Regions from separate parts of the Homo sapiens genome. Here region 2 is linked to region 1. Evidence: fine-mapped expression QTL. Tissue or cell type: whole blood. Region 1 holds a variant in brackets; the other region holds the start of a gene. All regions are shown on one strand. Distances are between the middles of the regions.

What was found. PIP is the estimated chance that this variant, and not a neighbour inherited with it, causes the effect.
Region 2: it holds the start of ARMCX4, and the variant in region 1 is fine-mapped to the expression of ARMCX4 in whole blood (TOPMed, PIP 0.98).

What each region holds. Positions count from the first base shown.
Region 1 is chrX:101,415,451-101,423,822 of GRCh38, reverse strand. It overlaps a transcript of ARMCX4 not described here. Among named protein-coding and RNA genes, the nearest start is that of HNRNPH2, 11 kb to the right of the region's middle. The variant C/T (reference allele first, on the strand shown) is at 4,868.
Region 2 is chrX:101,481,308-101,487,879 of GRCh38, reverse strand. It overlaps ARMCX4 (armadillo repeat containing X-linked 4), which reads right to left and starts at 2,424. Exons shown (of 6, transcript NM_001256155.3): 1 at 2,350-2,424; 2 at 1,788-1,857; 3 at 608-687; 4 at 189-272.

The DNA of each region.
Region 1 (8,372 bases):
TACATCATTGGCCACTGCTAGTCAATTTAACCTTCAGCTCCTCTCCCTTCCCCAGAGGCTGGGGGTGTGGTGAAAAAGTCTCAACTCTCTAATCCTGCCTTGACCAGCGCCCCCGTCCTAAATCTACCTAGGAGCCTCAGCCACCAGTTATCTCATTAGCATGCAAAAGATACTTTTTTATTTTTATTTTTATTTTTATTTTTTTGAGACGGAGTTTCACTCTTGTTGCCCAGGCTAGAGTGCAATGGCGTGATCTCAGCTCACTGCAACCTCCGCCTCCCAGGTTCAAGCGATTCTCCTGCCTCAGCGTCCCAAGTAGCTGGGATTACAGGCATGTGTCACCATGCCCGGCTAATTGTGTATTCTTAGTAGAGATGGGGTTTCACGATGTTGGTCAGGCTGGTCTCAAACTCCTGACCCCTGGTGATCCGCCCACCTCGGCCTCCCAAAGTGCTGGGATTACAAGCGTGAGCCACCACCCAGGGCAAAAGATACTCTCATCACCTCAGAGATTCTAAGGGTTTTAAAAGCTGTAATTCGCGAAAATGAGGATGAAGACTACCATGGTTTGAATGTTTGTCTTCTCCAAAACTCATGTTAAAATTTAATTGCCCCATGGGCATGGTGGCTCACGCCTGTAATCCCAGCACTTTGGGGGGCCGAGGCCAGTGGATCGCCTGAGGTCAGGAGTTCAAGACCAGCCTGGCCAACATGGTGAAACATTGTCTCTAGTAAAAATACAAAGATTAGCTGGGCATGGTGGTGGGCGCCTGTAATCCCAGCTACTCGGGAGGCTGAGGCAGGAGAATCGCTTGAGCCCAGGAGGTAGAGGTTGCACTGAGCCAAGATTGCGCCACTGCACTCCAATCTGGGCAACATAGTGAGACTCCGTCTCAAAAATATATATATATAAATAAAATAAAAATGAAAAATTTAATTGCCATTGTAATGAAATCACCTTTGCAAAATTATAACTGAGGAAATTATGACAGTGAAAGAAATCAGACCTAACCGACTCCACCTTGCTTCTAACCTTTAAGCTGTCCTTGTTCATTCCTGGGCATAGGTCAAACTAACTTTGGGAAGGAATTCAGTTTGTGGTTTGATTCTGAAACAAAATTGATCATAGGCGTTTCTTTCCTGGGGACTAGTCTGCCTGTGCAGGACTAACAAATTAGCTACAAGATTAGAAATTACAGTTTAGGGGTCATGCAGCCTCTGGCTCCAAGAGTCTGAACCTCCCCAAATTGCTCCTGGGGATAACATCACTATTGTGAAACCTAAGATCAGTGCCTGAGATACTTTTCAGACCCTGAACTCGATGGAGCAGCTGACACCACCCAGACCTGTAATCTGGCTCAACCAGTTCTGCCATCCCACCCAGAACACAAAACTGCAAGAAAGACTCACTTCGACCCCCTATGATTCCATCTCCAACCTGACTGATCAGCACTCCGTACTTCCCAAGCCCCTACCCACCAAGTTATCTTTAAAAACTCTGATCCCAGCCAGGCACGGTGGCTCACGCCTGTAATCCCAGCACTTTGGGAGGCTGAGGCGGGTGGATCACCTGAAGTCAGGAGTTCGAGACCAGCCTGGCCAACATGGTGAAACCCCATCTCTACTAAAAAATACAAAAATTGGCCTGGCATAGTGGCGGGCACCTGTAATCCCAGCTACTCGGGAGGCTGAGGCAGGAGAATCGCTTGAACCCGGGAGGCAGAGGTTGCAGTGAGCCGAAATCACATCATTGCACTCCAGCCTGGGCAACAGAGCAAGACTCTGTCTCAAATAATAATAATAATAATAATAATAATAATAATAATAATAACTGATCCCCCAAATGCTCTGGGAGACTGATTTAAGTAATAACAAAACTCTGGTCTCCTGCACAGCCGGCTGTGTGTGAATTACTCTTTCTTCATTTCAACTCTCCTGTCTTGATAAATCTCTGTCTAGGCAGCAGGCAAGGTGAACCCACTGGGCGGTTGCAGTAATAGTATTAAGAGGTGAGACTTTTAAGAGGTGATTAAGCCATGAGGGCTCTACCCTCACAGGTGGGATTAATGCCATTATAAAAGGGCAAGATCGGTCTCCTCTTGCTCTATCTCTTGGCCCTTCTTTCTGTCTTCTGCCATGTCATGATCTAGCCTTCCTCCCCTCTGGAGGACACAGTGTGTGCAGGGACCATCTTGGAAAAAGAGAATGGCCTCACCAGACACCAAACCTGCCCACACCTTAACCTTAGACTTCCTATCTTCCAGAACTGTAAGGCAATAAATTTCTGTTTATAAATTACCCACTATCGGGTATTGTTATAGCAGCACAAAACAAACTAAAGACTAAATGTGTACTTCACAATATCACACTCCCTCCCTCCCAATTCCAATCCATTGCCAAGTCCTGCAGATTTTACCTCCTAAGAAACCCTAAAATATACCAATCCCCTCCATGTAAACCATGGCTATTGTAGTACAAGCTACTATTACCTCTACTCTAGATTGTTGAAATGGCTTCTAATAAAACTCTCCATACATTCTGACTCCTTCCCAATCCTTTATCCACACTGTAGCCAGGGCAATATTTTCTTTTCCTTTCTTTTTTTTTTTTTTTTTTTTTGAGACAGAGTTTTGCTCTTGTTGCCCAGGCTGGTGTGCAATGGCGCGATCTCAGCTCACCACAACCTCTGCCTCCCGGGTTCAAGCGATTCTCCTGCCTCACCCTCCCGAGTAGCTGGGATTACAAGCATGCACCACCATGCCCGGCTAACTTTTTGTATTTTTAGTAGAGACGGGGTTTCACCATGTTGGTTGGCCAGGCTGGTCTCGAATGCCCGACCTCAGGTGATCCACCTGCCTCAGCCTCCCAAAGTGCTGGGATTACAGGCATGAGCCACTGTGCCTGGCCCCCAGGGCAATATTTTCAAAGACAAATCTGATTCGTTCTCCCCATCCCACAGGGCTTCCAATGGCTCTTAGGATATAGACTGAATGGCTTAAGATGGCTTGTAAGGCCCTGCATGCCCTGACCCAACACACTGCTGTCCCAACTGCCTGTTGAACTCCAGCCACTTTCATTCAGTCTCTTTTACTCACCATGCCATCTCTGAACACATAGCCTCAAACCAGCTCCTCCAACTCTCACCTCCAATCTAATTAGCCACTATTCTTCCTTTAACTCTCAGCTCAATAACTGCTTCTTTGAAGCAATTCCTGACCACCTTGACTAGTCGAATACCCCTATTTTATAGGCTCTCATTGCACCATGTACCCTCCTTTTCATGATACTTGTCCTCATTGCAATTATACACTTGCATGGCTATTTGCTTGCTACTTGGCTCCCCACTGTACTATGAGCTCCTTGAGGACAGGAACTTAATAGGTGTTTTTCCTCAAATTTCCTCAGCACCCAGTACAATGCCTGGCAATAAATTGGTGGTCTTTTTTTTGTTTTTGTTTTTTTTTGAGACGGAGGCCCACTCTGTCACCCAAGCTGGAGTGCAGTGGCACAATCTTGGCTCATTGCAACCTCCGCCTCCTGCATTCAAGTGATTCTCCTGCCTCAGCCTCCCAAGTAGCTGGGATTACAGGCGCACACCACCATGCCCAGCTAATTTTTGTATTTCTAGTAGAGATGGGGGTTTCACCATGTTGGCCAGGCTCGTCTCGAACTCCTGACCTGATCCACCCGCCTCGGCCTCCCAGAGTGCTGGGATTACAGGCGTGAGCCACTGCATCCAGCCAATTGGTGGTCTTTTTAAAAAGAATTGTACCCTGGCAGGTCATGCTAATATATACTACTAGAAGCACTGTCTGAGAGTGCCTTCCGCCAATGGGAAACAGAGCCAGATACTAGTCAAAAGCAGTAAAGCCATATTTTGAGTACTATTATAATAGAGGAAAAGAGACTTCAGTATAGAACTAAGCTCAATCCAAAGACAACTAGGACAAGTGTGGATTTACAGTCAAGCAGCAGAGTGAGGGAGTCAGTAGAAAGAAAATTCCTAAGGGGAGAGAGATATCAAGGGTAGGGGGATTCTTGCTCAACTGACTAAACAGGATTCTCGCTCAAGGCAGGACAAGGTGATCAGGTATCAAGGGTGAGGGAGTTACTCAGCAGGACTCTTGCTAAAACTGGGCTAGGCAGGCCGAGGACAGGGCCCAAGGACAAGGTGTAGTTGAAAAGAAAGCTGAGAGGAGCCTGTCCAAAGTTTGCTCAAAGAGACTTTGTTACTTCCTCAGGCCAGTGTATGTTTCTTTATCTTTATGTCTTACTTTGCTGCTAGTCTCCCCACAAAATAGATCATATCCCCACTACTCTTTACTTATTATTCCATAGGCATTTTAAGAGCTTCTTTGAGTTATAATTTATATTTCATAAAGTTCTCCCCCTTTTCAAGTGCAAATTCAATAGTTTTTAGTAATTTATAGAGTTGTGCGAACTATCACCACAATCTAAGTTGGGACATTTTCGTTATCTCTAAAAGACGCTCCATGCCCATTTGCAGCCACTCCCAGTTCCCACCCCATAGCTGCTTTTGAAAGCCATCATATTTGCCTAAGGATGAAAGGTACAGCCTCACTGGAAAAGCAAAAATCAAAACTACCACGCGTGAAATAATTTGAGAACCACCAAGCACTAATTGTGCATTTCTGATTATTTTCTCAAAAACATTTAAAGACAAGTCAATGTGAACTAAGGAGTGGGAGGAGGTTTCAAGGAAAAGGTAGAACATTTTAAGGTTTTTCTGCAGAGGAAAAAGTGAGCAAAAAAAAAAAAAAGGAAAAGGAATTTAAGTTGAAAAATACTCCAACAAACGAACCAACATGTTTTCAGAACTTTTTGAAGTTCCAGTATGGTGCTGTCA[C/T]GGTTGGTGAGCTGTCTGTCCTTGATCCAGTAGACAATGCGAGTTTCTAGAACAGAAGGATAAGGATTTATCACAAGCCATAAAAGCTGAAGCAACACTCAACTGAAAATAAACATGTATTGAGCGCCTACTGTGTGTCACGCAAGGGGCTCTGCGCAGGAAAAAAAAAAAAAAAAAAGGCTCCTCGCAGCTCCCCCTGCCCCGGCCAGGTGGCTGCGTGCCCCCTTCCGCCTAATCCCTGGACTGCCCTGGGGCTGAGAACTCCCCTGGCGCGAGAAGCTGGACTCCCCCGGGGACCGGCCCGAGATCACTCGGAGTCGGGGGCGTCCGGCACAGGCCAGACGCAAGGAGGACCCAGCTGGGGCCGGCCCTTCCTTCCCTTCTCCTGTCGCACGACTAGGCCTGTGCCCGGTCCCACCTGCCGCCCTCCCCCTCCTCCTAATGGGACCGAAAAGAGCCCGAAGGGCCTGGGAGGGCGGGTGAGGTTCCCAGGCCTTTCCAGATGCCCTGCCGTGTTTGGCAAAGCGATTGTCTTCCCTCTTGGAGCTCCGCGGACACCCGACCCCTCTTCCTCTCCCTCGCCACCTTCCGTCATTCGCCACGCTGACCACTTCCCCTCTGCTGCCTCCCGCTGAAGCCCCAGCCCGGCCGCGGCCGCCATTTCCCGACAGCCTCTTCCCTGTCCCTTTCCCTGAAAGGAAATGTACTGGGGCGGGGCGGGGCGCTGTGTGAGGGTCTCGAGAAAGCCGCCGGGGAGAAGGAGGGATGGATTCTTTCCAAACTCTCTCCGCTCTCCCGGAGCCCCCTACCTCACCCTTTCTCCCCGAATTCTTGTGGGCTTGGGAGCGAGAGAGAAGGAGCTGGTCCCAGCGCTAGTCACCGCCACCCTCAGCCCACAGATCGGGGGGGGCACGGGTACTCGTACACCACCCCATAAGGATCCCAGCCATGTCCTCTTTCCTTCGCCAGAGCTCATTTCCTCCTCCCTTCCAGCTTCCTGCCCTTTCCCCAAGACAAAGTTGATGTTTGCCTTCCCTGAGACTCAATTTCCTCATCTCTAAAGTGGGATGACACGTAAGAACATCTTGTATATGTGAAACATGCCCTGTGCAAAAGAAGGGGAGCAGGAAGAGGGATACAGGGAGAAAAAGGGCCGTGGAAAAAGGGTCCTTGGAATGTACGGGTAGATGTTCTAAAGAATGTATCGGTCAGAGCATTAGGATAGGTTCAGAAAATAATTACTGAATATATTATTTTGATTCTTAGATGTTATCTCTCACTATTTATCTCTTCTTTCAGAAGCCTAACATTCTCTTCTCAGAGGGCCAGATCGATGTGTGTTGTGTGCATTTATCTGTGCTGACCACTGCTGTGACGGAGGTGGTGGGGCGTCCATTCACAGGCTGCAGGCACAGGGACAACATAACTGTGGAATCCTAATTAGAAAAAAGGAGTTAGGCTGGCTGGAGCAGGGGAAGGCAAAGGGAGAAAGCAAATAAGCTATAAGTTTGTCTTTCTTCATGGTCCAGAACATATAAACAAAAAGAGGAATCAGATAAGCTATAGGTCTGCTTTTCTTTATGGCCCAGGACATGTGGCTTCTTGCGCAGATAACATACATAACTCACAAACTTCCTGCTCACTATCAAACGCCTCAATTTATCAAACACCCCAGCTAACAGAAGAATGCAAGCTAGCTCCCTACTGCCTTGGTTTTCTCAATCAGCCCAAAAACCATCCTATAAAATCTCCAGCAAGCCTTTGTTTCTTTTCAGTCGGCTCCTCTCTTGCAGGCTGCCCGTTGCCTTCTCGAAACGTATTTTCCTACTTTCTCTAATAAATCTGCCTTTACCTCCAACTGTCTTGGTAAATTATTTTACCCCTGCACCACCAGCCCAGTTAGTCGACACTCCCCCGCGACGATAACCCCTCACCTTCCCAGCGGAGTCCTGCACCATGCTAACCTGGGCCCCTTGGGCATGCCTGCTTTGCACTCATGAGAAGACAGTTTTGGTCATTGTGGGAGCAGCTTGTAAAGGGTTCTTGTGACACTCCCAGCCTGGTATAAGGCACAGCAAGTGGAATTTCCTTCCATCAGCAGCTGTTTTGCAATAGCCCTGGAGGCCCATCTTGGAGAAATCTTCATTTTAGCTGACAGCACTAGGAATTCTACCTGATGGAAAAGGAGCTTGATTTATAAACATATTCGCAATGCATTTTCGTATCATTTTGCTGGGTAGAGAAGGCAGAGAAGATATGTCATGCTTACACATGGGATTGTCTCTGTTTTGGTTACCTCCTTTAGGGTTGGATGAGTGAATGCAGGAATCAATGAATGGGTGGATAATGGAATCCATGTATCCATCAGCCAGTAGTTTCCTGCAGCAGAACCACCCTGAGCACTTGTTAAAACACAGCTTATTGGCTGGACAGAGGTTCACACCTGTAATCCCAGCACTTTGAGAGGCCAAGGCAGGAGGATCTCTTGAGCCTAGGAGTTCGAGACCAGCCTAGGCAACATAGTGAGATCCCGTCTCTATAAAAATCATTTTAAAAAATAACTGGGCTTGGTGGCACTCGCCTGTAGTCCCAGCTACTCGAGAGGCTGAGGTGGGAGTATCACTTGAGCCTGGAATTCAAGGCTGCAGTGAGCTGAGATCGCACCACCGCACTCCAGCCTGGGCAAGAGCGAGACCCTGTCTCAGAAAAACACAAAAAACAAAACACAACTTGTTGGGCTCCACACCCAGTTTCTGATTCAGTCCTTGGGGGAAAGGGACGAGGCGGGGGGCGGGGGGGCAAAAAGAATCTGCATATCTCACAAGGTGGAGGTTCATGCTGTTACTGATCAGGTACCACACCCAGAGAACCACTGGCACAAGCCATCGGATACTTAGACCACGATAACTGTGGCTGCAAATTTTCTGCCTGATCCTGCCAAATAGCTCACACACGCAGTTGAAAATAAATCCTCTGACTCAGTGTTTGGGGGGTGTTGTGGGTGGACTGCCCACTCGACCTCCCATCACTTTCCTGGGTAGTAGTGTTAGATGTGAGTGTTGGAGCACGAATGGTGGTGGGTGTGCACGCGTGTGCACACCAGCTGTACTGCTGTCCCTTTGCACACCTCTAGTGCTGACCGCTGACCTTCTCCAGGTTCTCTCTCCTTTGCTCCCCAGAGCCCTTCTGAGTCTTCTTAGCCAGCGAAGAAGAGTAAGTGAACATCTAAGATCACAAAGAACCCTCTATTGTCTCCTGGGATTTGGTGCCATCTAGTGGCTAACTTGAGAATCTTTGCTCAGACTTAGAGAAACTTCTGGAAAATTAACTAAGTAGCCTGGGAAGGCAAAAACACCTACTTGTTTACCCTCTGAGAAAGGCTTCCTGAAGGGCAAGGACTGGCTCAACATGATAGGAGTCAAAATGGATTTCTTGCTCTCCTGAAAGCTGTGATAAAAATTAGAAGTCATCAAAGAATCTCAATCACGTCTCACTGCATCTTCAG
Region 2 (6,572 bases), 65 kb before region 1:
ACTCTTTTCCCTGTACCAGAATTAAGGTGAGGGTATGGAGTAAATGACAGGGATGGTGGGAAAGGTGGCTGGAAAAGGAGAGACTGAGGATCCTCATCCTCCAGACTGGTCACTGGTCCTTACTGGATGCACACTGGTCTCCACCAACCCACTCTAGAGGTCTACCCAGGCAGTCCCCACACTCTTACCAGTCTATACTGATCAGGAGCAATCTCCTCTTTGTTTCTTTGCTTCCAGTGATCTTAAGCCCTGCAGCAGACATGCAGGCAGATCTATGGACAAGTAAACAAACAGTAGGTAATGGAAACCGAGTCCCTGGTAGAACAGACAAGCAACCTGATCCCTGACCCCAATGTCTGCCTCGCCAGAGCCCAGGTTCTATATACTAATGTGTACCATCTCATGGTCCCCCCATCAAGTCTTCCCCCAGTCATACTCCAGCCCACCCTTACCCCCATATTCCTATCATTTCCTGCACTGAAATCCACAGGAGGCATGGCAGCACTGTGGCAATCCAGCACTCCACTGAGACCCTCTTAAATCTCACCCACCTCCTATGCCCACCCTCTCTTGTCATCCCCAGAGACTACCCCCACTTCACACCAACCTCCATGCTTCTAGATTGATCTCCTCCTCTTTCCCTTGCTTCCAATGGTAAACAGCCCTACTGCAGGCCTATGGGAAGACCTTGGAACAGATGGAGAAAAAGAAGAGAGTGGATGTTAAGTACTTGTGACACTTACCATCTAAGACATAGGTCCCTGTACCTGCCTGCCTGGATTTAGAGACCCATTTGCTGGCAGAAAAAAAAAAAAAAAAAAGCCTGGGGCTTCCCCAGCACTGAAATGGGAAGGATGGAAAAGGGAGGCAGGAAAAGTAAAAGGCAACAGACAGAGGCACGTTATTTTATTTTATTTTATTTTATTTTATTTATTTTATTTTTTATTTATTTTGAGACAGAGCCCCACTCTGTCACCCAGGCTGGATTGCAGTGGCAAGATCATGGCTCACCACAGTCTCGACCTCCCAGGCTCAAAAGATCCTCCCACCTCAGCCTCCCAAGTAGCAGGAACTACAGACTGTGCCACCATACCCAGCTAATTTTTAAATTATATGTAGAGATGAAGTCTCGCTATGTTGCCCAGGCTGGTCTTGAACACCTGAGCTCAAGCAATCCTCTTGCTTGGGTCTCTCAAAGTGCTGGGATTACAGGCAAGAGCTACTAGGCCCAACAAGGCAAATTATTTTAAAACCACCTGTAGGGTTCTAGGGATTTCCCCAAAAGCCCACCATTTCCTTCACCAAGATGGTCAGGTAGGTAGAGGGATCTGGAAAACTGAAGGATGGCAGGAGAGATGGGAGACCCCAGATCCCATACTCTAGAACCACAACCTACTGCTGTCCACGTCCCTTTCAACCTATCTCTAGGAGTCTCCAGCAGAAGAGAAAAGCTATAGGGGAAGCCTTTTGCTTCTACAAAATCACTATCCTTCCCCACCAAAGGCTATCTAAAAAATAATAATAATAATAATATTCTTTAATATAATTTATCTTTTTCTCAATATTATCTGAAATGCAAATAAAAGCATCTGTAGAAAAGTTTGCTGTCTTCATTGGTCTTCAACATACAATTTAAAAGTCCTAAGCTTGGTAAGTAAAATGCAGTTTAGGGAAAGTCCCCAAGCTAGCCCCACCCCACATCCCATTCAGACAGCCGCACCTAAGTTCCTGTCATAGAATTCATATGGAACTCCAATGGTTTAGATAGTGTCTGTACTCACACTAACCTCCTTGATCCAGTGCAGTTTTCTCCTCTCCTTCCTTTCTCCTCGCCGCAAACAGTGCTACACCGAACTACTGTCCGACAGACAGGAGAGAGTAAAACCACTTAGTGTTGGTCTAGAGCCCAGGACATAGATCCCAATACTCGCCTTTCCGGGTTCAGGAACCTGGTTATCAAACGTCCCTCCCCACAGTCTGAGACACCACCCTTACCAACCCCACCGTCCAGTCTCTAAGGCCCACCATTTTCTCTGCAAACGCCACCGTGGCGCATCCCTTCCACTAAATTGAGCAGGAAGCGAGCGGACATGTGTGGCCAGTGATTAGAGCGATGGGCATCTCAATCTCTGTATTTCCCTCTGGCAGAGACAATCTCCCCACAAATCAAAGCCCACGGTTCGCCTGCACAGATGTAGGCGGGGGCAAGGGGGCTAGGGAGAATCAGAGGCAAAGGCTCCTCGAACTTGAGGCAGCATAGACCACCGCCCCCTCAAGCCCCGTAACCGCTGCCGGGGTCAGTGAGCTTCTGCCGGCCTGGCCAGGGCGCGCGGGCCCCAGGGCCCTTACCTGCTCCGCTTTCCCCGGGCCCGATGCCAGCCCGCCGAGCGCAGGGCAGCGGGGAGCTGGTAGCCAGATGCGAGTGACGACTGCAACGAAGGCTGCGTAGCTCTGCAGCTCCGGGTCACGTGAGGACCGCGCGTCACCGCCGAGCTCGCCCTCCTCCCCAGCACCCCCTACCACCCACCAAGGGCCGGCGGCCAGTCACCAGGAACTCCCCCCTCCTCCACTCCGCACGCACAGACATCCCCGTTCTCTGGTCTGTGCTCGGTGCCCCAGTGCGCACGCGTTGTCACTCATCTCCGTCCTCTCCAATCTGAGGGCCCACAAGTGGCATCATCGCCTTGTGGTTGGAGTTTACCCATCTTCAGTTACAGGGGAGGGTCTGCATCCCCCTACCCACTCCCGGCCCTTGGCTGTGGCCTTTTATGTTTCTTCTTTGAGTAATCACTTATTTCTCTCTTAGACTATAAGACCAGCACTCCCCACCCGCCCCCTACACGACCTGCCCTCTCTAAGTACAATGCCTGCACCAAATGGGCTGTGGAAGGGGGTATCAGGAAGGAAAGCAGAAGGTGCAAGTAGAGCTTTAATTTTCTTTTTCGTGTTCCTTTTTTTTCTTTTAATATGACATTCTTTTCTAATATTGTAATCAGAAAATACAGTATAGCCATTTTCATTTGACACAAAAAATATTCAGGGTGTAAAAATAACAAAAGACTCATTCTTTTGTTTACATTATTTTGTGCCACATTTTAAAATGTCTTCTGTTACTGCAAACTATTTTACAGCTTTCAAAATTGACTAGTAATTCTTGACATTTTAAATACAAAATTGTCCTAAACAAAACCAGCACGTATTCAATATGATCTATAAGTTAATCTTTGGAAAGACATTTCGTTTTCTAATATTGACAATTTTACACAGGTGATTTGTAACTTTTGAAGTTCTGGCTGAACTCAGCATCTTTTTTCAGGTGTCTAAGACCTTCTTCAGAGAAGACTTCTAGAGGATATATTTAAGACCCAACTCCTGATGAGCCTAGTGCTTTACTAGTGACTTACCAAATTAACCTGCTTTACTAGTGACTTCCCAAATTAACCTGTTTTCCATTCAAGGGGCTTTATTTGGATTTTACATAAGCATGTAATCAGATCAGCCTCACCACACCCATGGAACAACCAACTGCTAGAGCTTGGATGGAAAGGAGACTTAACAGGTGGAATTTTCATCCGTCGTAACACTTGAGATCTCGCCGGTGTCTGCCATTCATGTACTACATACTACCCTAGCAGTGGCGAGTGTTCAATATTTTCCAGTGGAGATGGTGGTGAGGGTCTGTGGATGACTGTGAATCACTGCAACACACCTGATGTCCGTGTCATTATTTTTTTCCCTCACAAGTGGAAGGGCAATGTACAGGATCCCAAGCAATTGCCAAGAAAAAGAAGTTTTTTCATGTCCTGCCTTGTGTTACAACTTCACTGCACCTCCCATACAAGCCCCTCAGAATAATCCCAAAACTCAGGGACCAAATATGCAGAAGTTAGTCCCCACGCATCCACCTGTCCCCGCTGAGGAGTCATACTCCAAATATAGACCCTCCAGGCAGCCTCTTTCTTAGAACATTGAAATAGGACACCCCAGAGGGAGGGGCTCCACTGTGAGGGGCCCCTGTGTGGAGGAGGCCCTTTCAGGAGCCAAGAAAGGAAGTCCTAGTGCCTTACAATCTTACTAATGGCTTTTCAGAACTCAATTGAAAGTGACGAACTTACTTTCTCCACCAAAGGAAAATATTGATAAATTAATTGCATACAAATTTTAAACTTTGGTAAAGTAAAAAAAAAAAACCATAAACATTGACTGTCAAAAGGCTAACTTGTAATAATCTAAAAGCTCTTACAGATCATTAGTAAAATGATAAACAACCCAATAGAAAAATGTGCCAAAAGACATGAACAGATTTGTTCACAGAAAAGAAATAGATTACTAATAAACATATGAAAAGATGCTCAAACAAAGAAATGCAAATCAAAGCAACTATGCCTTACCATGTTTCAAGTATGATTTTCTCAAAGTTTAGAAACTTGATAATATTGTTGACTGGTTTGTCAAGAAATGGGCACTCCTCTACTCTGTTGGAGGCAGATATTGATGCAAGCTTTTTATATAGGGCAATTTGGCAAACTCTATTAAATGATAACTATAATATTTCACAAATTCTTTGACCCAATAATTCTATTCCTTGGAATTTAGCCAACCTATATGCCTACACAGTTTCACAAAGATATATTTACTAGAATTTTTTTTTTTCGCAATGCTTGTAAGGTTTGAAAAAACTGACGCAGCCGGGCACGGTGGCTCACACCTGTAATCCCAGCACTTTGGGAGGCCGAAGCAGGTGGATCACGAGGTCAGGAGTTCAAGACCAGCCTGGCCAACGTGGTGAAACCCCGTTTCTATTAAAAATACAAAAATTAGCCGGGCGCAGTGGCAGGCGCTTATAACCCCAGCTACTTGCAAGGCTGAGTCAGGAGAATGGCTTGAACCCAAGGGATGGAGGTTGCAGTGAGCCTAGATCACGCCACTGCACTCCAGTCTGGCTGACAGAGTGAGACTCTGTCAAAAAAAAAAAAAAAAAAAAAAAAAGCCTGACGCAACATAAAATGGCTATTGATAGGGGAGAGATTAAATAACTCATGTTATATTTATACAATGTGGCTGATGGAGTTAGCTCTGTGTATCCCAGTGGAAAGATAATTGGGGTGTTTTAATATTTGCTGTTTACTTTACATACAAATCCCACAAGAGTACAATTCTAGTATAAAATTCAAACCCAAGGCCAAGTGTGATGGCTCACGCCTATAATCCCAATACTTTGGGAGTCTGAGGCAAGAGCATTACTTGAGGCCAAGAGTTTGAGACCACCCTACATAGGTTTCCCGACATAGGGAAACCTGTCTATTAAAAAAAAAAAATAGCTGGGCTTAGTGGTGCATGCCTGTGGTCCTAGCTACTTGGGAGGCTACTTGGCAAGAAGATTGTTTGAGCTTAGGAATTCAAGGTTACAGTGAACTATGATTGCACCACTGCTCTCCAGACCGGCAATGGCGTGAAACCCTGTCTCTGAAAAGAAAAGAAAAGAAAAGAATAGTCAAACCCAGAAAAAGCACTAGTACCACTTTCACTCCCCTATCCTCACCCAAATCACAGTTACCTCTCCATTTTAAGTTTGGTGTATTAACCTTTTGTATACATGATATACACATACATGTCTTATTAAAATATATAAATGAGATTTTTTTTTATATGGAGTCTTGCTCTTTCACTCAGGCTGGAGTGCAGTGGTGCGATCTTGGCTCACCGCAACCTCCACCTCTCGGGTTCAAGCGATTCTCATGCCTCAGCCTCCCTAGTAGCTGGGATTACAGGTGCGCACCACCATGCCCAGCTAATGTTTGTATTTTTAGTAGAGACTGGGTTTCACCATGTTGGCTAGGCTGGTCTCAAACTCCTGGCCTCAAGTGATCCAACCACCTGGGCCTCTCAAAGTGCTGGGATTACAGGTGTGAGCCACCACGCCTGGCCAGGATCATAATTAACATACTGTTTTGCAACTTGCTTTTTTTTCATTTAAAATTATGTCTCAAAGAGCTCTACATACCAGTACATTTAAAGCTGCTTCATTCTTTTTAACTGCTGCATATTATGAGTTCTGGATCCGGAGCTAATAAAGCAAGGTTACAATGAACAGTCTGGCACATAAAGCTTTGCCAACAGGTAGAAGAATTTCTTTAGGATATTCTACTATAAATATAATTATTTGCTTAAATGTATGAGATTTTATACATTTGATATTGCCAAAAGAAGGATGTGAGATTTTATATAGTTAATGGATATACCACCAAACTGTCCTCCAAAAAGGCTTGGCCAATTTATACCCCCATCAAACATAAGACAGGATCTATTTCCCCACACTCTCATGCACACTGTGTACAAATGTTTCTCAACTTATAATGGGGTCATGTTCAAATAAACTTATAGGTTGAAAATACCATAAATCTAAAATGCATTTAATACATCCAACCTACCAAACATCATAGCCTAGCCTACCTTAAAAATGCTCGGAACACTCACATTAGCTGACAGTTCGGCAAAATCATCTAATGCAAAGCCTATTTTATAATAAAGTGTTGAATATCTCACATAATTTATTGAATACTACATTGAAA